Regions from separate parts of the Homo sapiens genome. Here all the other regions are linked to region 1. The links come from fine-mapping of genetic effects on gene expression. A gene starts in region 1. Each other region holds a variant in brackets. All regions are shown on one strand. Distances are from middle to middle.

Region 1 (8,174 bases):
GAAACCTACCTCTTCAAGGCTGAAACCTGGAACCATGCACAGTGAAGAGGCCAGACACAAAAGATCACATGTCTGACTACGATGACAGGTAACTCAGAGACAGAAAGATCAGAGGTCACTCAGCTTCCCCGGTGGCCACAGTGTGTAGCATTTTAGCAAGTCACTGGGGCCTCAGATCCAAGACATGCCCTCCAGGCCAGATTCTGCCAGCAGTAAAGCCAACACTCAGCCCCATCTGTAGGACTCCTGCCTGCCTGCCTGCCCGTCTCTTGGTGGGTTCCAAAGCCCAACGACATAATTATCCCCAACAAACCAACCCCGACTCCACTCTTCTCCCAGTCCAGGTCCACCAACCATGGTGGCTTTTCGGGAAAGTGCGTCTTGATGGATGGGAGCACTAAGGAACCTTCTGCAACTGCTGAAGTGCACACTGTGCCTAAGAGACAATAACTACACAAGTCATCCTTTCTAACATCCTTGGAATTCATAACATCAAACATTAAAACAGTTCAGCTCTCTTCTAGTTTTTCCAAGATGTGAACAGGAACGTCCTGTGACTAGGAATAATGAAAGGACATTTGGTGCATACAGCACTCTGAAAAAAGAACAAGTGAGTTAGTTAAAAACAGCACGTCAGCCCGCCTGTGTTGGAGAGAGGAACAGACTGTCCAGGAGAAACACCAGTTACCTGCGGGACGTCATCAAACAGTCGCTGAGCAAAATGGGAAAGCACGTCGTCCACGGACTTCCCGTTGCCAAAATGGATCACTGCGCCTGTGGCTTCAATGGCGGCCACACGGACCTTCCAGTGCTGGTGGGAGATGGTCTGCATCAGGGGCCCGATCAGAGACTCCGACTGCATGTGGAAGTGGTCTGAGGGACAGGGAGGCCCCCAGTTACCAGAGCTGCTCCCACACGCCTCGCCCAGCTCTGTGGGCTTCCAGAGGACGGCTGCCTGCCTATGAGTTCCTCACCTCCCTTCCTCTCCTACGCCAGGTCCTTGCTGCATGAACAGTACACAATCCAGGCTGCCAAGGAGAGCTCTGTACCGCCCGGCACAGGAAGAGGCTCAGGGACAAGCGTCCCACCCTGATGACACCTGTGCAACCCAGAGGCTTAGGAGGACCAGCGGGGAAAGGCTGGGGGTGCAAACCCATTGTGGCTGAAGACCAGAGAGCCTGGACCTGCTGAAGCCAAGGTGGAGGCCTGACGGGGACACTGGCCAGAGGAAAGAAGCCGAGCCCAGAAGACAGAGGCGAGGCCACACTCCCAGCCCCACCTGAGACGAGACCCCAGGCTCCTCCAGGAAGCTGGGCCAGCACCACTCCAGGCAAAGCCACTGCACTTCCTATTTGTAAAGTCCCCGCAGAAAGTCAGAACAAGAGGTGGCAGGCGCCTGTAATCCCAGCTACTTGGGAGGCTGAGGCAGGAGAATCGCTTGAACTCAGGAGGCGGAGGTTGCAGTGAGCTGAGATCGCCCCACTGCACTCCAGCCTGGGAGACAGAGTGAAACCCTGTCTCAAAAAAAAAAAAAAAAAAAGTCAGAACCAAAGGGTCTCTGGCATCCAGGCCGCCTCTTGCCTCAGCTCTGCACTACTTGGGGCCCGTCTGGGAAACGGCTATTCCAGTGAGACTTTGGGTGAGCGCCTCAACCTCTCTGCCGTTGCCCAGTGTGACCGAGACCAGAGGTGAGGCCCCCCACCCAGGGGAGAGGAAGGCCAGAGGTGCTGGAGATGAGGGGATGCTCCAGGCAGAGGCACAGTCCCTCACCCCACAGCAACCAGTGAGCACATACCCCAGCAGGCTGCGCTTGGGGCTGGGGCACAGATGGGCACAGTGCTGTCCTGTGGAACCTACGGTCCAGGGAGGGAGCTCGTGGGGCTGATGTACAGACTGGGTAGGGAAGTGGTTGAGGATGAAGAAGAAATACATTAAATGCCAGGAATTCTCAATGGCCATGTCCATCCAGCCCAAGGTTCTTCCCCAAGCTCCACAGGAGTTCTGGACCATGTGAAATCCAAAGTTAACCAACGTGGAAATCTCGGCATTTCCCCAAGTCCAGCTCTTCCTCTACTTCTGGAATCTATTCTCCACGCAGCTGCAGTGATCTTTTAACAACCTGAACTCGGGTCTATCACTTCTATTGACACCCCCTGCACTTCCCACTACATTCAGACCATCACTGGGACATCACTGGGACGGCCTGAGCTGGCCAGATCCCTCACTGCTTTCCTGCTCCCTACCGCCCACGGATTTATAGCATCAGTGTTCCCTCCTTCGGAAAGCCTTCCCGCCAGCAGGAAGCAGGCGCCTGCTATCATTCCACATCCCAGCCAGGGGAGGGAAAGGGCAAGACCCTGCAGGAATGGCCAGCTAAGGAAAGGGAACGACCGGATCAGATCAGAGCTCTAAAAAAGATGGGGAACGTTATAAAGTGGAGGGGAGAAGCGGCCTCCTTCCACTTAGGACAGTGGTCCAAGCCAGAGCGGAAAGGCAGGGGAGTAGGATGAATGGGACAGAAAGTGAAATGACCAGAGCAGAGTCTCAAAGCGCGTGCCCTCAACCAGGTGCAAGTCCTGCAAGCCCCCGAGGGAAGGAAAGGGGGCAGCTATCAGGGCACACCCCACCCCAAACCGCCTAACAGGAATTTCTGCGGTGGTTTCCAGGTATCTGGACAGAAGCGCTGGCTCGTGGGCCCGGGTGGGGTGGAGGGGGCTCAGGCAGGGAGGAGGGTGGGAGGTGAGGGTCGCGGGAGGGCGGCGTGCAAGGAGGAGGATGGCACAGGATAGGCAGGTGGAGGGGGCACAGGGAGCAGGCAGGTGGGGGGCGGGGCTTGGGGCGTGGAGGGTGGAGGCGGGGAGCAAGGGGACAGGGGAGTGAGGTGAGTGAGGGCCAAGCAGGAACAGGGGTCACGGGGCAAGGAGCACGTGGCAGCGCAGGAAACAGGTACATGGGGGTAGAGGACAAGGGAGCAGCTGAAGGGCGCGTTGGTGGCGGGACGTGAGGCAGGGGAAGCAGTGGTGGTGGGAGGAGGGGGCCGGGCGGGGTGCTTTGGGGCAGGCGGGTGGGGGAAGCGGCGCATGGGGGGTCCGGGATGTTGGGGGGTGCGGGCGTGGAGGGGGGCGGGGCCGAGCCGCGGGGGTTGTGAGAGGGGCCGCGGAGGTGGAGGTGGGGGTGAGAGTGTGGGGTGGCGTGTGGGAGCGGGGCCCGGGGTGCTCACCGGGCGTGGCCTGCGCCAGGGCGGCGGCGCAGCTGCAGCTCTCGCGGCGCACGGCGGCGAAGGGGTCGAGCAGGGAGCAGCGCAGCGCGCGCAGAGCGTCGTCCAGGTGGGGCGCGAGCGCGGCGCCGCACAGGTCCACGGCCAGGCCCAGCAGCTGCACAAGCGCCAGGCGCAGCTCCTCACAGGCCTCGGGCGGGCGGCGCGCGGGCACGGGGCCGGCCAAGCGCGCGGCGAGCGCGGGCAGCAGGCGCGGCAGGGCATCGCGGGGCCGCGCGGCGCGGCGCAGGCCCAGATCCAGCAGGTGCACTGCCAGCGCGCGGCAGCCCTCGGCGGGGTCGCTCAGGCAGCGCAGCAAGCGCGGCAGCAGTAGGCGCGCCCAGGGGCCCTGGAAAGCGGTGGGGTCGGCGGCAGGGCCTGGCTCCTCCAGCGCGCGCCGCAGGGCCTCCAAGGCGCGCCGCCGGCCCGGCTTGCTGTCGGCCTCCAGCCCCGGCAGCAGGCGGCTCAGGGCGCGGCTCAGCTCCACCGCCTCAGCCGTCTCGGCCCCCTCAGCCGGGTGTGGGGCCGCCACGGCCTCCGCCACCCCCAGCGCCGCCATCTTGCCCGCGTCGCCGGTCACTAAGGGGAACAGCGCTTTCGCGACTCTCAGCGCAGATTACGGCAGCACTTCCGGTCCGCGCTGCGGGCGGGGCGCCGGGCTACTTCCTCCCCGCCGGTGCGCACGTGGGCCTGTGCTCTTGTCGTGCTCGCCCGCTGTCCCCCTCTGTCGCCGGAACCCCCGCCAGCCTGCCTGCTGGGCCTTGTCCTGTCCCCATTGTACAGATGGGGAAGGTCTCGGGAGGGTGCAGCTCGCCCGGGATGCGGGTCCCGGGCTATAGGCCTGGGCCTGCCCCTAGGGAAGCCTGCCCTGCAGCCTAGGGGGCTTGGAGAAGGAACCTGAGTGGTCCCGCCTGGGACCAGGGTAGCCGGGAAGCCCCTGTTTGAGCCGCCTAGAGCCCCTCTGGCTTTGGGAAGGTCCGTTCCAGGAGGGAAGGACGCTGGTTCTGTGGACTGGATCCCCCTGTGGTGTAAGACAGGTGCCTGGTCTGGGCTTCACGTGCAGCCTGTCATTAGATCTCAGGCGTAGCCGCCCAATAGGTTCGCCTTACTCGCTGCCCAGGTAGAGCCAATTTATCAAGACAGGGGAATTGCAATAGAGAGTTTAATGCATGCAGAAACTGGCTGCATGCAGAAACTGGCTGCATGCAGAAACTGGCTAAAGGACACTGGAGCTTTATTGCTCAAACCAGGTTCTGAAAATCCTGAGATGGGTCATCTAAGGATAATTAGGCAGGTAGGGGGCCAGGGAGAGGGCAGTGCTTATTGGTCGGGTTGGAGATGAAACCATGGAGAGTCAAAGTTGATTCTCTTGCTGTCTTCTGTTCCTGGGTGGGATCACAGAACTGGTTGAGCCAGATTAGTGGTGTGGGTGGTGGCACCTGGTGCATCAGAATGCAGAGCCTGAAAAATATCTTGAGCACCAATCTTAGAGTTGATGATAGTGGTGTTATCCTAAGGAGCAACTGGGGAGGTTTGGAATCTTGTGGCCTCTAGCTGCATGACTCAAACCACAATTTCTAATCTTGTGGCTCATGTGTTAGTCTTACAAAAGCATTCTGGTCCCCAGGCAAGAAGGAGGTTGGCTTCAGGAAAGGGCTGTTATCATCTTTGTTTCAAAGTTAAACTATAAACTAAGTTCCTCCTAAAGTTAGCTTGGCCTACTCCCAAGAAATAACAAGGCAGCTTGGAAATTAAAAGCAAGACAGTGTTTCACAGTAGTGACCTTGACTGTGGACTTGAGTGGAGACAGAGGCGCCTAAACAGCTTGGAGTCGGAGTTGCTGTGAGCCCAGCCTAGAACGCGAGTTTGACAGCACTCACTGCAAACCAGGAGTCCCCAAGTCTGGTTAGCCAGGCACTTCTCATCTGTGACCATGCACTGAGTTTTCTAAAGGCAGAATGTGTGTAATTTTAGGACAGAACTTCAAGTTTGACCTTCTTTTTTGTTGTTGATCTTCGTGTTGCAAAATGGTGGTGTTTGTCGGTACGTCTTTTTTTTTTTTTTTTGAGATGGAATCTTGCTCTGTCGCCCAGCCTGGAGTGCAGTGGCGCGATCTCCGCTCACTGCAGACTCTGCCTCCCAGGTTCATGCCATTCTCCTGCCTCAGCCTCCCAAGTAGCTGGGACTGCAGGTGCCCACGACCACGCCCAGCTAATTTTTTGTATTTTTAGTAGAGACGGGGTTTCACTGTGTTAGCCAGGATGGTCTCGATGTCCTGACCTCGTGATCCGCCCGCCTCAGCCTCCCAGAGTGCTGGGATTACAGGCGTGAGCCACCACGCCCGGCCCATCAGTACTTCTGAAAAGTTGTTATGTAGCATATTCAGTAACCTTCATTCATTGTTTCCTCCAACAGGCATTTGTTTGACCAGGCACTGTCTGCAACATGTGGGACAGGATGACAATGATGTAGAAACTGGCCATGGTCCCTGCTCTCCCAGATCTTAGGGTCTTGCAGGATGAGATAGCCCTTAATGGAAGGATAAATTAGTATGTGTTTAACCGTGGTGGTCCTGAGAGAATGAGTGTCAAGGGATGTTGAACTAGACTTTTAAGGCTTCCCTGAACAAATGGTAGCAGAGGTGAAATATGAAGAATAAGTAAACACAGTGTATTAGTCCATTTTCACGCTGCTAATAAAGACATGGCCGAGACTGGGTAACTTATACAGGGAAAGGTTTACTGGACTCACAGTTCCACATGGCTGGGGAGGCCTCACAATGATGGCCGAAGGCGGGAAGGAGCAAGTCACATCTTACATGATGGCAGCAGGCAAAGAGAAAATGAGAGAGCCTGTGCAGGGAAACTCCCCCTTATAAAACCGTCAGATCTCGTGAGACTTATTCACCATCATAGGAACAGCACAGGAAAGACCTGCCCCCATTATTCAGTTACCTCCCACTGGGTCCTTCCCACAACACGTGGGAATTGTGGGAGCTACAATTCAAGATGAGATTTGGGTGGGGACACAGCCAAACCATGTCACATAGCCAGGTGAAAGGGCGGAGGTGGGAGACGGGGAGTGTTGGAGAGAGAGGAAATAGCATGAGCAAAGGCCTCATGGGAGTGTTACGGGCTGAATGGCGTCTCCCCAAAATTCATATGCTGAAGTCCTAACCCCCATAGTTCAGGAAGTGATCCTGTTTGGAGACAAGGTCTTTGCAGACGTGATTGAGGTGAGATGAGGTCATGAGGTTGGGCACTCATCCAATATGACTGCTGTCCTCATAAAAGGAGAAATTTTGGAGATAGACGTGCATACAGGGAGAATGCAGTATGAGCATGAAGAGAGACCTCAAGAGGAGCCAGCCCGTACCCTGATCTTGAGAAATCAAATTTGTTTCATTCAGCTGCCCAGCCTGGTGTGCTTTGTTACGGCAGCCTCAGGTAGCAAACAGGGAGGGAGGCTGACCCTGGTCACAGGGGAGCAGGCAGGGAGTGAGCAGATGGGTGGGGCCAGGCCATGGGGGCCTCTGTCCTAAAACATGGCAGACTGAGGATTTCAAGGTGGGAGCATTGGCAAGATCGAGTCTGCATTTTTCAAGGACCCCTTTGGCTTCCGTTGAACGGATTGGTCGGGAGCCCTGGGAAGGCTGTGGCAGTGAGTGCTGAAGACGAGAAAGAATAAGCGCTTGAATTACGGTGGTGGGACTTCACTTTTCCTTGCTCCTCCCATTGAAATACAACAAAATACCCTGCACATAGCAGGCGACGAGGAAAGGAGCTTGAGAGTTGACAGACGGGCTGGAGACCTCTGGACTGGAGGAATAGCAAGGTGGTGGGTCCCCTGGGTTTTCTTTTTCTCTCATGTGTTCCTGCACTAGTCCCCAGGGAAGCCTGTGGCCCAGAACAGCCAACAGGCACAGACAGAAATTCTCCAAGGAAAGCCTCCTCTCTCTGGCCAAAGCCCTGGGAAAGGGGACGCCCAACAGAGACCTAGAGGGTAGCTGCCACCTTCACCCCACAGTCTGCTTTCAGGGCCGATTTTAAAGCTGCTGCAGGTGCATTAACCTGTGCTGTGCAACTGGGGTTCGAGTGGACAGTCTGCACTGCACAGGTAGTGTCAGAGGAGCCTGAAATCTGCCCTTCCTCTCTTAGCACAAAGAGACCCAGAACGAGCATGTTCTGTCCTGACACAGCAAAAGGTAGCCCAGTGACACCAGGCGGCCCAGGGAGGTACCTTTCACCCCTGCAGGCAGCACCCATGGGAAATGAGCAGCAGTCCCAGGAGAGCCAGAAGAATAAAGCAGACGAGGAGGGCAGTGCCAGGGCTCTGAAGACGAAACTGCTGTTGGAATGACAGACCACAAAAACAGGCTGCAATCTACACCCTGGACCTGAACAGAGCAACTGCCTGGTGGAATAGAGTAGGACAAGGAGTCTGCAAACATCGTAACCCAAATGTCCAGGATACATCTGGAGATCACTTGTCATACCAAGAACAAGGAAAGCCACAACCTGAACATGGTAAGGTAACGGATGTAAATTCCAAGATAGGTCACATGTTGGAATCATCTGCCAAGAATTTTAAAGCAGAGTCATAAGAACCAGCTGGGCGCGGTGGCTCACGCCTGTCATCCCAGCACTTTGTGAGGCCAAGGCGGGCAGATCACCTGAGGTCAGGAGTTTGAAACCAGCCTGGACAACATGGTGAAACCCCATCTCTACTAAAAATACAAAAATTAGCCAGGCGCGGTGGCTCACGCCTGTCATCCCAGCACTTTGTGAGGCCAAGGCAGGCAGATCACCTGTGGTCAGGAGTTTGAAACCAGCCTGGATAACATGGTGAAACCCCATCTCTACTAAAAATAGAAAAATTAGCCAGGTGCAGTGGCTTACGCCTGTCATCCCAGCACTTT
Region 2 (8,174 bases), 66 kb before region 1:
GTTTCCCCTCCAGCCCACTTTCCTCCTTTAAATACTGAAGGCCTAAAAGTCTTTTTTTTTTTTTTTTTTTTTCGGAGACAGAGTCTCACTCTGTCACCCAGGCTGCAGTGCAGTGGCGCGATCTCGGCTCACTGCAACCTCCACCTCCTGGGTTCAAGCGATTCTCCTGCCTCAGCCTCCCGAGTAGCTGGGACTACAGGTGCCCGCCACCACGCCCAGCTAATTTTTTTCTATTTTTAGTAGAGATGGGGTTTCACCATGTAGGTCAGGATGGTCTCGATCTCTTGACCTCGTGATCCACCCGCCTCGGCCTCCCAAAGTGCTGGGATTACAGGCGTGAGCCACCGCGCCCGGCCATGAATTTACCTAAATATTGGAGTAGTGTGCGCTGTGAGTCCGTGTGTGATGGGATCCCACTGCCTCACTGGACATTGTCTGAATTGACTTTCACTTAGAGCATGTTTATAAAGGGTAATTAAAATGTGCTAATCGGAAGCTGTATTAAAACTCACTGGCGATTGCAGCAACTGTTCAGCTTAGAATTTAGAGCAACAAAAGGTTTTTTTTAGGCGAGTGTTTTCTCACTGATATTGTACAGAAGGGTGACGCATGGTGTTAATAAAAGGCAGCGGGACTTTTAATTGGTGATGACTGTTTCTCAGTTCCCAGCACTCCCAGGCCTCTCGGGTCCTGCCAGCATGAGGCAGAGGGCGACGAGCCCACCCCTCAGGTGCGCCCACCCCTCAGGTGCACCCACCCCTCAGGCTGGCTCTGTGGGAGACCCCACCCTTGTCCTCTGCAGATTAGACAGACTCTGTGGGTGTGGACCCTGCCCTGCCCAGGTCCAGGTTAGATTCTGCGGGTGTGGACCCTCCCAGGCTCTGGTCCAGGTTAGAGTCTGCGGGTGTGGACCCTTCCCCTGCCCGGGTCCAGGTTAGAGTCCCTGGGTTTAGGCCCTGCCCCAGTCCAGGTTAGATTCTGTGGGTGTGGATGGACCCTGCCCTGCCTGGGTCCAGGTTAGAGTCCGCGGGTGCGGACCCCGCCCTGCCCGGGTCCAGGTTACAGTCCGCGGGTGCGGACCCCGCCCTGCCCGGGTCCAGGTTACAGTCCAAGGGTGTGGACCCCGCCCTGCCCGGGTCCAGGTTACAGTCCGCGGGTGTGGACCCTGCCCTGCCCAGGTCCAGGTTACAGTCCGCGGGTGTGGACCCCACCTGGGTCCAGGTTACAGTCTGTGGGTGTGGACCCCGCCCTGCCCGGGTCCAGGTTACAGTCTGTGGGTGTGGACCCTGCCCTGGCAGCGCAGGCGGCTGGCGCTGTGCTTGTCCCGGGCCACGCCTCTGGAGGCCTTTGCGTGATGGTGCCACCCTCTGGGCTCCTCCTGCCCCCGGACCTGGATCCCTGCGGGGAACCCTTCCGCATCCCACATCTCTGTCCTGCATCCCGGGATGGAGCCCACAGGGACCCCAGGAAAAGGCCCCGTAAAGGATTGGGGGCTCAGAGACATCCCCTGGACCCGGATCCCTGCACTGCAGACTGGGCAACAGAGCAAGACTCTCGTCTCCAGAAAAAAAAAAAAAAGGAAAAGAAAAAAGAAAAGAAAACAAAATATAAGGAAACTAACGTAAGGATGACAGTGCCAGCAATGAGCTAGGAAGAGAACATGGAGACGCCTAATAATAGATTCTTCTGTCTACAGTTACCTTGTTGTCAGCCAAGAGTGAGCACTGCCTTGTCTCCTAAGTGACACTTTCCAAGACATTAAGAGAAGCGTTGAGTAAATGCCTAAACACAAATGAGCAGGTGCTTTTCCCCTTGGGGCAGGTTCTAGGCCTCAGGGTCCAGGCCAGCTCCTGGAGCCATCATTTGCTTGTAAGAAGAGTCACAGGAGAGCGGCACAGACCCTTGGGTACAACATCAAGGACATGCCGAGGTCAAAGGAAGAAGGCGGAGAGGGTGAGGCCTGCGTGGAGGCTGCAGCCTCCTCTCTGTGAAAGGCACTGCCTGAGACCTCTTAAAATGCTTTTAAAAGGCTGGGCGCGGTGGCTCACGCCTGTAATGCCAGCATTTTGGGAGGCCCAGGTGGGTGAATCATTTGAGGTCAGGAGTTTGAGACCAGCCTGGCCAATGTGGTGAAACCCCATCTCTACTAAAAATACAAAAATCATTTGGGCATGGTGGTGGGCGCCTGTAGCCCTAGCTACTTGGGAGGCTGAGGCAGGAGAATCACTTGAACCCAGGAGGGAGAGGTTGCAGTGAGCTGAGATTGCAGCACTGCCCTCCAGCCTGGGTGACAGAGCGAGACTCCGTCTCAAAACAACAACAAACCATGGTATTCATAGCCCACCAGCCTGAGTAACATCCAGGGATTGTTTCTCTCTCTGACATCAGATGGACAATGCTATTTATAGAATTCTGGGCTGGGCACGGTGGCTCATGCCTGTAATCCCAGCACGTTGGGAGGCCAAGGCGGGTGGATCACGAGGTCAGGAGTTCGAGACCAGCCTGACCAACATGGTGAAACTCCATCTCTACTAAACAAACAAACAAAAAATACAAAAATTAGCCAGGTGTGGTGGCATGCGCCTGTAATCCCAGCTACTCAGGAGGCTGAGGCAGGAGAATTGCTCGAACCCAGGAGGTGGAGGTAGCGGTGAGCCGAGATCGCACCACTGCACTCCAGCTTGGGTGACAGAGCGAGACTCTGTCTCAAAAAAAAAAAAGAAAAAAAATAGAATTCTGGAAAATGGGGAGAAGTCAGGAGAAATATTCTATCGCTGTAAGAACGTGGGGTACAGTGCAGTTTCGTTACATGCATAGATTGCATTCTGGATACTGGTCAAGTCAGGGCTGTTGGGGATCCATCGCCCGAATATCATATGTTGTACCCACTAAGTCATTTTACATCATCCACTCCCTTTTCTCCCTTCACCCTTCTGAGTCTCCACTGTCTATCATTCTCTATGTCCACGTGTTCACATTTTCTAGCACCCACTCATGAGTCAAAATATGTGGTATTTGACTTTCTGCACCTGGCTTGTTTCACTAAGATCATGGCCTCCAGTTCCATCTATGTTGCTGCAAAAGTCAGGATCTCGTTCTTTTTTTTGAGACGGAGTCTGGCTCTGTCACCCAGGCTGGAGTGCAGTGGCACGATCTCC[A/G]CTCACTGCAAGCTCCGCCTCCCGGGTTCACGCCATTCTCCTGCCTCAGCCTCCCAAGTAGCTGGGACTACAGGCGCCCGCCACCACGCCCGGCTAATTTTTTTTTTGTATTTTTAGTAGAGACGGGGTTTCACCGTGTTAGCCAGGATGGTCTCTATCTCCTGACCTTGTGATCTGCCCGCCTCGGCCTCCCAAAGTGCTGGGATTACAGGCGTGAGCCACTGCGCCCGGCTGGTGTTTTATTTTTTTGTAGCTATTATAAGTGTGATTGCCTTGATTTCTTTGTCAACTAGATCATTATTAACGGACAGAAATACTACTGATCTGTGTATGTTGATTTTGTATTCTGCAGCTTAACTGCATTCATCCCATCTAAGAGCTTTTTGGAAGGTTTTCTAGATATATGATCATATCATCAGCAAATGGGGATAATTTGACTTATTTTCCAATTTAGATGCCTTTTATTTCTTTCTCTTGCCTGATTGCTCTGGCTAGGATGAAAGATTTATCTTTAAAGAAAATTTAACTAAGTTCTCAGGCTAGTGAGGAGACACCTGGTAGTGGAAAATCAAGTGCTCAGTAAAAGGGACACCGCCCGGCCTGCTCCCACCTGGAGAAGAGCCTCCAAGAGCACTCAGGCTGAGCCTGTGTCTTCCATGCTTAGCCAGGTGACTGTTTTTGAAGTGTGATTTTTTCATTATAAAAACTCATGCAGAATTCACACATACACAAGTAGAGAGAATAATATAATAAACATAAAGAGCCTCCATATAGTCATCATTGATTCGGTGATTTAAAAAGGAGTAGGCTGGGCACAGCGGCTCATGCCTGTCCTCCCAGCACTTTGGGAGGCTGAGTTAGGAGGTTCGTTTCAGCCGGAGAGTTCGAGACCAGTCTGGGCAACATAGTGAGAACTCGTCTCTACTAAAAATAAAAAATTAGCTGGGGGTGGTGGTGTGCATCTGTAGTCCCAGTTACTCCGGAGGCTGAGGCGGGAGGATCGCTTGAGCTTGGGAGGCTGGGGCTGCAGTGAGCTGTGAGGGCACCCTTGTGCTCCAGCCTGGGTGACAGAGTGAGACCCTGGCTCAGAGGAAAAAAGAAAGGACTATAGAACAGCTTTGCCTGTTCTCGAGTTCCATATAAATTATATGAGATACAGTCTTTCCTCACTGGCCTGGTGTCTGTGGGAGCTGTCTCCGTTGCAGTGTGCCCTGTCGTTCGACTACAGAATCGTATTCTGTTGTCTGGATAGACTGTAGTTTGTTTATACTGCAGATGGACTGTTGATGGACATTTGGGTTTTTTCCAATTTGAGGCTAGAATAAAGCTGCTATGAGCACTTGGCTACAAGTCTCTGCATTTTCATTTCTCAATAAGACAAGTTTTGTTTGTTTGCTTTGAGATGGGGTCTTGTTCTGTCACCCAGGCTGGAGTGCCATGATGCCATCAAGACCCACTGCAGCCTCCACTTTCAGGTTCAAGCAATCCTCCTGCCTCAGCCTCCCAAAGTGTTGCGATTACAGCCGTGGGCCACCACACCCTGCCCAAGACAACTTTCTGATAAAGCTTTTGCTTTGACATCCTGAACACCCTTCCCTGGGACAGGGGTTCGTGATACAGAAGAAACAAGTGTGCTGACTTGTGAGCCGAGAACAGCATCAGGTGTCAGTGAGGCTTCGATTACAGGTTAGTCTCAGCAGAGTTGTTTTTGACTGGGTAATAAATACGTGCACTAAAAGTAAATTCCATGGTACCGAGAGGAGTAAATTCCATGGAACCGAGAGGAGTAAATTCCATGGTACCAAGAGGTAAAGACTGGACTCTCACTCCAGTCCCTGGGGCACTCAGGTCCCTTCTCCAGAGGCCTCACTGTTCAACTGGTTTCTTTTGTCCCCTCCAGAAATTTTTTATGCCTAAGCAAAAGAAGCAGCTCCCTTTTTTTTTTTTCTTCAGACGGAGTCTCACTTTGTCGCCCAGGCTGGAGTGCAGTGGCAAGATCTCGGCTCACCACAACCTCCACCTCCCAGGTTCAAGCAATTCTCCTGCCTCAGCCTCCCGAGTAGCTGGGATTACAGGTATGCGCCACCACACCCAGCTAATTTTTGTAGTTTTAGTAGAGACGGGGTTTCACTATGTTGGCCAGGCTGGTCTCGAACTGCTGACCTCGTGATCTGCCCGCCTCGGCCTCACAAAGTGCTGGGATTTCAGGCGTGAACCACCGCACCCAGCCTGTGCTCCTTGTTTTTTAAAATTAACAATGTGTTTTGGAGATCATCCCATACTGATATAGAAGGCTGTCTTTGGCTACAAAAAGGTGAGTGTTTTTTCTTCAACCAACCAGCTCCCACCCTCCAGTAACCTCAGCTCTTCATTTAGGTCACAGAAAGGGGATTACAAAGGGAAGTAGAAATTGCCTTTGAATCACAGTGTAGGTAAGAACAAATAGATGAGTTGTTTTTATTTATTTTTTTGAGACAGAGTCTCACTCTGTCACCCAGGCTGGAGTGCAGTGGCGTGATCTCAGCTCACTGTAACGTCCGTCTCCTGGGTTCAAGCAATTCTCTCACCTCAGCTTACTGAGTAGCTTTGATACAAGCGCCCACCACCAGCCCCGGCTAATTTTTGTATTTTCAGTATAGATGAGGTTTCACTATCTTGGCCAGGCTGGTCTTGAACTCCTGACCTCAAGTGATCCACCAGCCTTTGGCTTCCCAAAGTGCTGGGATTACAGGCATAAGCAACCGTGCCTGGCCTATGACAAGAGCTTTTTGTTTGTTTGTTTGAGATGGGGTCTCGCACGATTGCCCAGGTTGGAGTGCAGTGGTGCAATCGTAGCTCACTACAGCCTCAACATCCTAGGCCCAGGAGATCCTCCCGCCTCTGCCTCCCGAGTAGCTGGAATTACAGGTATGCACCAACATGCCAGGTTAGTTTTTTTTTTTTTTTTTTCTGGAGAGACAGGGTCTCCTTATGATTCCCAAGCTGGGCTCAAGCGACCCTCCCACCTTGGCCTCCCAAAGTGCTGGGATTACAGGCGTGAGCCACTGTGCCTGGCAACAACAGCTTTTTGAGCTTCAGGAACTGAAGACTTTGTGTCCTTGGGTTAGGCAAAGATTTCCTAGATACAACACCAAAAGCACAATCCATTAAAAAAGAAATTGATAAATTAGACTTCATTCAAAATAAAAAGCTTATCTTCTTCAAACGACATTGTTAAAATAATGAAAAGACAAGCTATGGAATGAGAGAAAATATTTGCAAATCATAGATATATGATAAAGGACTTGTACCTAGAATATATGAAGAATTCTCAATATTCAGGAAGAACACAACCCAGTTTTGTCTAAATGGGCAAGATATTTGTATTAGTCCGTTCTCACATTGCCATAAAGAACTACCTGAGACTGGCTTGTTTATGAAGAAAAGAGGTTTAATTGACTCACAGTTCTCCATGGGTGGGGAGGCCTCAGGAAACTTCCAATCATGGCAGAAGGTGAAGGGGAACCAGGCACATCTTCACATGGCGACGGGAGAGAGAAGGCACACTTTTAAACAACCAGATCTCATAAGAACTCACTATCATGAGAACAGCAAGGGAGAAATCCATCCCCATGATCCAATCACCTCCCACCAGGTCCTTCCCTCAACACTGGGAATTATAGTTCAACATGAGATTTGGGTGGGGACACTCAGCCAAACCATGTCAATATTTAAAAAGACTCTTCACCAAAAAAGATACACAGATGGCAAATAAGCATATGAAAAGATGCTCAGCCTCATTAGACATTAGGGAAATGCAAACTAAAACCATAATGAGATACAACTATGTACCTATTAAAATGGCTAAAATTAAAAACTGATTAGCTAGTGTTGGCAAATATGGGAGGAACTGGAATTCTTGCACAGGGCTGGTGGAAATGGTCCCGCCACTCTGGAAAATAGAATGGTAGTTTCTTAAAAATTTAGTATACATCCACCATGACTGCCATTCTACTAGATGTTTATCCAAGAGAAATGAAAGTACCTATCCATACAAAGACATGTACACAAATGTTGGAAGAAGCTTTATTTGTAATAGCCAAAACCTGGAAAGACCTCAAACACACGTCAAAAGCTGAGTGGGTGAACACACTGTGGCTTATCTATAGAATGGAATATTACGCAGCAGCAAAAAGGAATGAACTATTGATGGACACCCCAACATAGATGGACATCAAAACTGATGAGTGAAAGAGGCAAGACAAAAAAAGTACATGTTGTATTAATGCACTCATTTATGATTTACAAAATTTTTTTTTTAAACAAGGTCTCACTTGTTTAAAAAAAGTGAGTGCAATCTTGGGTAACTGCAGCTTCGATTTCTCAGGCTCGGGTGATTCTTCCATCTCAGACTCCTGAGTAGCTCAGACTGCAGGTGTGCGCCACCATGCCCACTCATTTTTAAAATTTTTTTGTAGAGACGGGGTTTCCCAATGCTGTCCAGGCTGGTCTTGAATTCCTGGCCTCAAGAGATCTGCCCGCCTTGGCCTCCCAAAGTGCTGGGATTACAGGCATGGGCCACCAACACGCCCGGCTCATTTTAAAAATTTTTGGTAGAGATGGGGTCTCCCTCTGTTCCCCAGGCTGGTCTCGAACTCCTGGGCTCAAGTGATCCTCTCCACTCAGCATCCCAAAGTGCTGGATTTTACAGGCATGAACCACCACACCCGGCCTATCAACATTTCAAAGAATTAAGTGGAGAGGGACGTAATGCCTCTTGGGTGTCTGTGAACCCTTGTAGGCTGGGTTTCCGTCTTTCTCTGAACACACGCACCTGTGGACGTGCCAGGTCCCTGGGAGCTCCCTTTACAGATGTGTAGAGACGGAGCGGCAGCGCTGATGTCTCTTCCCATGCTGTGGCCCCAGCATGCAGGGCGAGGGACGGCCCAGGGGTTGGTGCACTTGCGTCCGAGGGGTCGAGGGGCCCCTCACACGTGTGTCCTCTCGGGCAAGCTCCCTGCCATTCATTTCTGGGTC
Region 3 (8,174 bases), 950 kb before region 1:
AGCCGGGGTGCCGGATACCTGAGGAATGGGCCCTGAGCCCCACTTCTGTGGGCACCCTGAGGGGTTCTGTGCCAAGATGACCCCACTGTTTCATACCAATCCATTCTGGGGGGTTCATCTCCCCAAGAACACAGCTCTGAAATGCTAATGGCTGTCAAAGGGAAGCAGGACTTGCTTCGCACAACCTTCCTCTCCACAGGACGGCCTCCCTCATTTCCTAATGAATATAAATAGGAAAATGGGTTTTGCCTTACAGAATATTTTTCTCTATAGGAATGTAGCTCCAATTTCTAAGCACTGTCAAAACAGAAGTTACATCCTCTCTGTCTCTCCGCTGCCAGCGTCGGCACCCAGTACGGGCTACCCTCATGGCTTTCAGACGTCGGCAGTCCCCTGGGTGGCTCATTCCCTCGTGTGCCCTTAAAAACCCTTTCTCCGTCGACATCAGAGGGATGCTTTAAAGCCAGCCTTGTCTCTCAGCTGCTGCAAACTCCCCAGAGACTTCCCGAAGCAATCCGAGTACCAACCAACTCTTCCCAAGAGCTCCGACACAGGAGCAGCCCGGACCCTGGGGCCTCTCCCGCTCACCTCTCAGCCCCCACGGCCAGCTGCACTGGCCTTGCCCTTCACCCACACGAAGCGTGTCTCGGCTGCGGGGCCATTACACCTGCTCTCCCTTCCCCAGCATCCTCCTTCCCTGTCTCTTTGCACAGCAGGGCACAGAGGGACGCAGGGACCGAACCTGCGCCCCATCCAGGTTCCAGGGCTGCAGGTCTGAGGGCCATGCAGGGCAAGTCAGAAGGGCGGGGGATTCTGCCAGCAGTGGCGGCTCTGCCCTTTCCAGAACTGGTGTCAGCCATTTACACTCCCCACAGCCATCCATCCACCCCCGTCCTCACATGACGGAGGAGAGGCCGAGGCTCCGGGAAGGGAAGGGACCCACCTCAGGTCACGCCGAACACCAGAGGCTCCCCAGCCCGGGCCACCCCATGATCTGCAGCCAAGCCCTTCCACCATTCCACAGGACAGATAGATGCAGGGGTGGTCCCTCAGTGAAGAGGGCAGAGGCCGGGCCCTTCCACAGCTTCCACGGGGCAAACAGACACAGGGGCAGTCTGTCAGTGAGGAGGGCAGAGGCCTCAGTGCAGGCTCCCCTCAGGCAGGGAGACAACAGACTGGGGGTTCCTCTCCAGGGTGCCCTGGAGCCACTACCAGCACCCTTTAGGCAGAGGTAGGCACTTGGCTAATGCCATCTCCCTTGGGATCTGGTCTAGGAACCAGCTGCCACCTTTCCAGACATGTCCGGGAAGCATCCCAGTCCCCCTCCCAGGCAGCCTCCCTCGGTCAGCACTCTGACCAGTGCGGGGGCCAGGCAGGAGCCACAGCACAGCCCAGAGTCCACGCCCAGGAGACACATCCTGAGGGTCCCCAGCCCCTTGGGCTTCTAGGGAGGCCGTGGAGGTCGAGATGGCAGTGAGGGAGCCAAGCGCTGGCCAACCCTTCATGCAGCCCTGGCGGGGCAGCTGTGCTGTGGGTATCTCCGGGACACCTTCCCAGCCACTACTTCGGGCTGTGTCTCGACAGCGCGGGACTGTGAAGGCACACAGCTGTCCTTGACTCGTCCCTCCGGGCCAGCGACGCCTCACTGTGTGCTCTGCAAAGCCCTCTCCCTGCAGGGCCTCCTGCGCACCGGCCGAGGGTCTGGGGAGCCCCCCGACGGCCCCCCCATTTCCAGACCCCGCTCCTCGGCCCCAGGAAGCCGGGCGGGATTCTCATCCATGTGGGGCGGGCACATGGCTGGCTGTGTTTGTATCTGTGTTTATTAAACTAGAGAGAGTTAATGACTAAGAGGTGCCTGAGTTTGATCCTGCTGAAAATAAGACTCGGATCTGTCGGTAAACACGGGGGAGCCTCCAGGCTGTCAATCATCTCCCGGGGTTTCCATCCCAGGAAGGATTCCGCCTGGACCCAACCCAACAGCCTCCAAATGTCAGGGCAGCAATGCCGGGGTGTGCACCTGTCACGTGGACAGACCCCCGCCCCCGAGCCCTCGGCCGCCACCTGGCCACATGTCCAGCGCTGGTGAGAAGCTCTCAGCGCGGTCAGCACTCTGTGACAAGCCCTCTGACAGAAGTTACCACTGGAGTGGGGCGGACAGCAGAGAGATGCGCTTCTGTGGGGTGGGGTCCTAGAGGGGGTAGTGGGCCACAGAGGGCCTGGGGGTGCACAGGGGTGGAATGTGGCTTCCCAGACAAGCTGGTTCACCTCCACGCCGTGGGCTGCCGGGTCCCCGTCGGTAAGGCCAGGGCACTCTCCCAGCTGAGCCCGGATATGAGGTGTGGGGAGCCCAGCATGGGAGCAGGGCTGAGCCCAGATACCACTGCCTGCAAGCCTCAGTGGCTTGCGGCCACTGCCCTGTCTGCGCCTCAGTGTCCCTATCTTTAAAATTCAGAGATTGAATTGGGGGCTCTAGCAAACACAGTGGACCTGGTGATGGCTGGGCTGGCCCGGGCCGAAGGATGTTTCCCGCCCGGCTGTGCCTCCTCTGTCCCCATCCCTCCCTCGGAAGCCCAGAGTGCAGTTTTCCAATATACCCCAGCCTCATGTGGGGGCACTGGGCACAACACACAGGGAGGCAAGGCCCTGTCCCTTCCACCAGTCTCTCCCACTGTGGCTGCCCGAGTCTGTCCTGGAACTGGCAGAGGAAGACATTAGGGCAGACGTCGAGGGCGGGGGGGTCACCGTCCACTGTCATGGCCCCTCTCCCCACCCCCCTCACTGCTCTGGGGGCCTCACACCTTCCCTTCCGCTGCCTCTCCTGCCTGGATGCCTGCCTCTTCCTGTGGGGTTATCTAAACTCTGCCCACCCTATAGGGGCCAGCTAGACCCCTCCTCCTCAGCCCCAAAGAGGAGCTTGGGTCCGGCTCACAGGCGAGGGGAGCCTGGAAGCCGTGAGTCCTGAGGAACTAACTGCTGGGCAGAAGGGAGGCAACCGGGGCTGAGTAACCGAGATCCTGAGACTCCAGGGTCTCCCACCACAGAACAGCCCCAGGAGTCCTAGCCATGTGGGTGGGGAAGAGCTGTGTGGACCAGCCTCCATGGCTCAGTTTCCCCACTGGCTCCTGTGCACCCCCATGGCCCGGAGCAGGGAGCGGAGGAGTGGTCCTCTCTGCCTCAGTTTCCCCACCGGCTCCTGGGCACCCCTCATGGCCCAGAGCAGGGAGCAGAGGAGTGGTCCTCTCTGCCTGACTCAGTTTCCCCACTGGCTCCTGTGCACCCCTCACGGCCCGGAGCAGGGAGCAGAGCAGTGGTCCTCGCCGCCTGACTCAGTTTCCCCACCAGCTCCTGTGTACCCCCGTGGCCTGGAGCAGGGAGCGGAGTAGTCGTCCTCTCTGCCTCCCCTCTGAAGGTCCCTCAAGCCCTGCTGGACCCCCTCCTGCCTCAGCCTGGGTTCCAGCTCTTCTCCAAGACCAAGACCCCAGCTGCCCCAGGACAGCTCTACAGGTGTGGAGGCCTGGTCCAGCCACAGCTCCAGCTTACTTGCTGTGTGACCTCGGGCGATGCTGGACCCTTCTGGAAAATGGACCGGCTGGACCATCTTCAGGGGCTGGACCGGCTGATCTCCGAGGGAAAGGAGGCACATTTATTTGTGAGACCATTGTCTTTCCATCTGGGGATGCCAGCTCCAAGGCAGCCAGGCTCCTCTGGGCTTTGTCCCAGGCTCCAGGTAGGGCACACAGTTGGCCCTTGTCTGCCATCAGCGCTCCCAGGGTGGTCTCTCACCTCC[C/T]GCCCTCCCTCCCCAGGAGGCTGGAAGAGGTGGGACAGAACCAGGTCTCAATCCACCAGCCTTGGGAAAGGGACATCCGGGGCAGGGGGCGGGGAGGGGGGGCACGGTGCTGGGCTCGAGTGCCCATAGCTGCCACCCTGCTTCCTGTTTACTGTCGGTGCCACTGACTGGCTCAGGGTGCACAGGGGTGAAGGGAGGCAGCAGCCCCCAACGACCAAGGCCTCCCACCCTGCTGGAATCCCCTGACCTGAACCAACACAACAGGACACAGACGCCAGACATAGGACCCCTCCACCACCCTCTCCGGCCCCACCCCAATCCGGGCCTCAGTCTCCCCATCTGTACAGCTGGTGCTGGAATGGATGGCGCCATCGTCCACTGCAGTGGCTCCACCACCAGCCACCCCCACAAACACCCACCCAAGGCCACTTGACACCTGAGCTTGTGCTGGAAGAAACCAAATCCACAACAAAAACAAAAAGGAAAGAGCGGGGGGGGGCGCTGGAGAGATGACAAATGTATCCAATGTCCGCGGCGGTGCCACCATCCGCTCCAGGTTCACGCCTGGAAATTTATGGCCTCATCACCCAGCCCTGGAGATCTATCTATCTCTCGCCTGTCACTCACTTGCATTTTTAATCCTGCCCCCCGCCCCGCCACCGGCCCCCTCGTGTATTTATGCACCACCCACCCGGGCATCTCGAGGGCCTGCCTGTTTCTTTCTTGTGAAGATATATGAACACCCCAAGTCCATGCACCTCTGCTCATAAATTTCCTCCAATGCGATGGTGTCTGAGTCTGGCACGGAGAAACACAGTCCCCTACCAAAATGGGGAATTGGCTTGTCGGGGGGGAAGGGATCCTGGGGTGGGGGCTCTGACCTCAGGGGGACCTTAGAAGGAGGCTTTCCTGAGTGCTTAGAAAATTCTATCAAAATCTAGAGCTGATGCGTGTGTGTTGGAAACAGATAGAGAAAGTCACCAACATGGGACCCAGGCAGCCACTCCGATTTTACCCCATTGATCTCAGGCACTGTGGTCATATTTTAGTCCCATTAATTTTTCTCTCCTGGAGAGCAGGTGAAGCCTACAAGTATACATTTAGGGTGAAAATATTCAAATGCCGGGGTCCGAGACAGGCAACTACTCCAGGCTCTGGCCCTGGGCGCTTGCTGGGACCCCGGACACCTGTTTCTTGGTGGGGACCGTGGTAGGGAGGTGGAGGAGCAGCAGCCTCTCCCTGGCCCAGGTGTGGGGAGCCTGCCTCCAAAGACACTTTGAAAAATCAGTGCTTTCCAGTGGCAGTCCTGGGGCATGGTGGGGAAGGGACGCCGCCCTCCCTCCCCTCCTCTGGTCCTGGGTGCAGGTGCCCACCACATCCCTGCACCCTTACCCCAGACTTACCAGGCCTCAGGAGTGTGGCTCTGGTTCAGGTGCCCACTGGCTTTTCTGGGAGTCGGGAGCTGCCTGCCGAGCCTGCTGTATCATCCTGAATTATACGCACACAGCAGTCCTGCTGCGGCCGAGGAGGAGGGGGCTGCACAGCTGGCTGTAGGACAGGGGGAGGGGCATGGCCCCCAATCTCTGACTTGGAGACCCCCAGGTCTTCTGCCCACTAGGGGTGGGGATCAGAACTCCCTGACCACCGTATGCCCAGGAAAATGAGGGACCCAAGTGCTGGGGTCCTGGCTGGGCTCCAAACCCCCTCAAATCCAGGTGAGGGGGTGACCCCCTCCCACACACGGCCCCCTGGAGTTTGTCCCCCTGCTTTGGTGGAGTGGGGCGCAAACCTGGGCTGGGACCTGTAAGCCAGTCTTCTCAATGCTTGTTCAATTAAAAGGTGGCAGGGGCAGGGACCCAGGGGGCAGGAGGCCAGGGGGCCAGCCAGGCAGAGAAGAGGAGCATGTTGATGCTTTTCAAGCAACCTATGCCCAACCCAATGGGGTTTCCCCCAAGGCTGGGTGCAAGCTGGACCTCTTTGGAGGCTGGGGGCCTCTCTAGGGGGCAGCCCCTGAGAGAGGCAATATGGGGAGATTTGCCATTTACATCTGCTCCTGGCTCCCGGTCCCTCCACAGCTTCTGTCCCCAGGCTCTCCGCACAGCCCTTAGCCCAATCGAGGGAATGAGCGGCAGAGGCAGCCAGCCCAAGCCAGGGTCCAAAGAGGCCCCACTCCGGGTGTGCAGGAAGGGAAAGTGCTGGCACGGAGGCTTTTTGAGGACGTGCACACCTGGCTCGGCCGGCCTCGACCCTTTCTGCTAAGCCTTCGTTTTTTTCAGAAGGCATGATCATCCTAGCCCCATTTCACAGGTGTGGAAACTGAGGCTCTGAGATTCACCTGCCCCAAGGTCACACAGCTGAGACCTGGAAAAGCCGGATTTTCATCTCAGAGGGTGTCGTTTTTATGGGGGGGGGGGCGGTGTGCGGTACGGCAGGCAGTGCCCCCCGCCCCACCCTCAGCATCAAGCAGGTGACCTGCAGGTTTCAAAGGATGGAAATGGGGGCGCTTGTCTTTAGAGGCAGGTTGGGGCACGGAGGCTTGGCAGCCTCCTCCCAGCCCCCAGAGGGACGAGGACGAGGATGGACTCCAGGTGGGGCGAGGGGTGGAAAGCACCCAGTAAGTTCAGTTCGGAGCGAAGCCCCCCACCCCACCCCCCCGCCAGTGGTTGGACTCAGGGGCTGGGACCGAGGAATGTGACCCCTCCCCGTGCGTGACTGGACGGTCCCCGCGCGGAGCGAGGAGGCTCGCAGCGTCGGGGGGAGGGCGGCCCAGCAGGGAGGGCGATGCGAGCCTGGGGAGGGGTCAGCGACTCGGCCAGGAGGTGAGGACAGCCCCCTAATTTCCGGGAAGGGAAGGGCAGGGGGCCGCGTCTGGGGGGCGCCGGGCAGGGTGCGGACGGCGAAGGGGGACGGAAGGGAGAGAGGCGCTGGGGAAGGGACCTCTCGGAGGCACGGGGCAGCGTGCGGGCTGCGGCAGCGACCCCGACCCGGGCCCCCGGGCTTTGTCGGGCTGAGCCTGCGCCCGCTCCGCCGCCGCCAAGTTCCTCCAACTTTGCCCGCTGCGCTCGGATCGCGCGCCAGGCCTGGGGGCGCAGCAGGGGCTGGGGGCGCACGCTGCGCACTCGGGGACGCCCGGGGTTCGAGGTGGCGGGGGGCTTGGCCGCGCCGCTCCCCGGGGGTGGTCCGGGTCCCAAGTCCCCCAGGTTCAGCGCCCGGCCGCGCTCGCCGCTTACCTGCCCGCCCGGCCTCGGTTCCGGGGCTGCGCCCGCAGCCGCCGCCGTCCTTCAAGCTCTAACTTCGCTCCCGGGATTGAAATTCCTCCCCAGCTTCGCCCATCGATCTGCGCGCGCGGCCCCGCCCCTCGCCGCGCGGCCGGGGGGGAATTCAAGCTCGCCCTGCCCCCTCCCGCCCCCCTTCCCTCCCTCCCTCCCTCCTTCTCTCCCTCCCTCGCTCCCTCGCCCGCCTGCGCGCTCCCTTCCACCCCCTCTTCCTCCGCCGCGAGTCCGGCTCGGAGCCTCTGGCCCTCCCCTTCTCTCCCTGGCCTCCCGAGCCCCCTGCTCTCCTCGGCTCCCCGCGGCAACCCGCTCCTTCCCTCTCCCGGCGACGCGCAGGGGCTGGGGAAGGAGGGGAGGTCCTAGAAAGCGCAGGGGGCGTCCTCGCGGTCCGTCCCCGGCCCTCCCCGCCCACATCTAAAAGGTGGAGGGGGTGGGTGGGTGGGTGGGGGGAGTGGGGGCGACAGCTGTTGGCTGAACAAGCTACCCGCGACTCCCACCACCTCAAGCAAAGCCAAGGCGTTCTCAGGTCCTCCCGTCGGTCCGCCCCTTATCCGGGAGGGCAGGGACCTAGGGGCGGAGAACGCAGGGCGCAGGCCGGGCCTCCTCTGCCCAGCCCTGGCCCCGCTTCCTTCCTTCATTCACCCCAACCTCTGTGAGGACTTCAGGGGGTTCTGGAGCACTCTTCGGCTCAGTTTCACCCTGACAACCTGCCTGTGCGGAAGCCCCCGTCCGCATGTTACAGGAAGGGAAACTGAGTCAAGAGAGGCCCAGAATCTGGCCCTACACAGCGCGTCGAAGGCAGAGCCCCAGGGGCAGCCTGGACCCCCGGCAGGAGCCTCGGGACTCCACGCTCGGGCCGGGCAGGCCCCGGCGGTGCCTGGACAAGCCCGCGTTCGCAGAACGGCCGGCGCCTGGGGACCCTCTCCAGTCCCCGCGCAGCCCGCGCGTCCCCGCCGGCGCCCCCTCCCCGCTTCCTGTCCCCCGCCCGCCTCTGGTTCCCGGCCTCAGTACCCCCGGCACGCTCTCCGCTCGCCGCCAGCAGCTGGGCAATTCAACGAGCATACAAAAGAGTTGACTCAATTCAAAGGCAGCAAATCAAGATAAATCCTATAGTG

Alleles and levels. Alleles are on the strand shown, and positions count from the first base shown. SD is a standard deviation of normalised expression in the study named. Not every link is listed here.
In carriers of allele A in region 2, the expression in liver of the gene that starts at base 3,837 in region 1 tends to be higher than with G alone (moderate effect, 0.57 SD a copy in GTEx).

The links.
Region 2: its variant is fine-mapped to the expression of DNAAF5 in liver (GTEx, PIP 0.98). The same link has a PIP of 0.9 or more in breast.
Region 3: its variant is fine-mapped to the expression of DNAAF5 in esophagus muscle (GTEx, PIP 0.98).

What each region holds. Positions count from the first base shown.
Region 1 is chr7:722,362-730,535 of GRCh38, reverse strand. It overlaps DNAAF5 (dynein axonemal assembly factor 5), which reads right to left and starts at 3,837. Exons shown (of 13, transcript NM_017802.4): 1 at 3,221-3,837; 2 at 689-873. The coding sequence starts at 3,815. PRKAR1B (protein kinase cAMP-dependent type I regulatory subunit beta) reads left to right here and starts at 3,255. Exons shown (of 11, transcript NM_001164760.2): 1 at 3,255-3,326. RefSeq lists silencers at 2,975-3,054, 3,095-3,204, 3,265-3,314, 3,565-3,764.
Region 2 is chr7:787,951-796,124 of GRCh38, reverse strand. LOC124901567 (a long non-coding RNA gene) reads right to left here and starts at 6,672. Exons shown (of 2, transcript XR_007060175.1): 1 at 6,602-6,672. The variant A/G (reference allele first, on the strand shown) is at 3,159.
Region 3 is chr7:1,669,198-1,677,371 of GRCh38, reverse strand. It overlaps ELFN1 (extracellular leucine rich repeat and fibronectin type III domain containing 1), which reads right to left and starts at 7,095. Exons shown (of 4, transcript NM_001128636.4): 1 at 7,018-7,095. RefSeq lists enhancers at 5,543-6,249, 6,250-6,956, 6,957-7,663, 7,664-8,174. The variant C/T (reference allele first, on the strand shown) is at 3,788.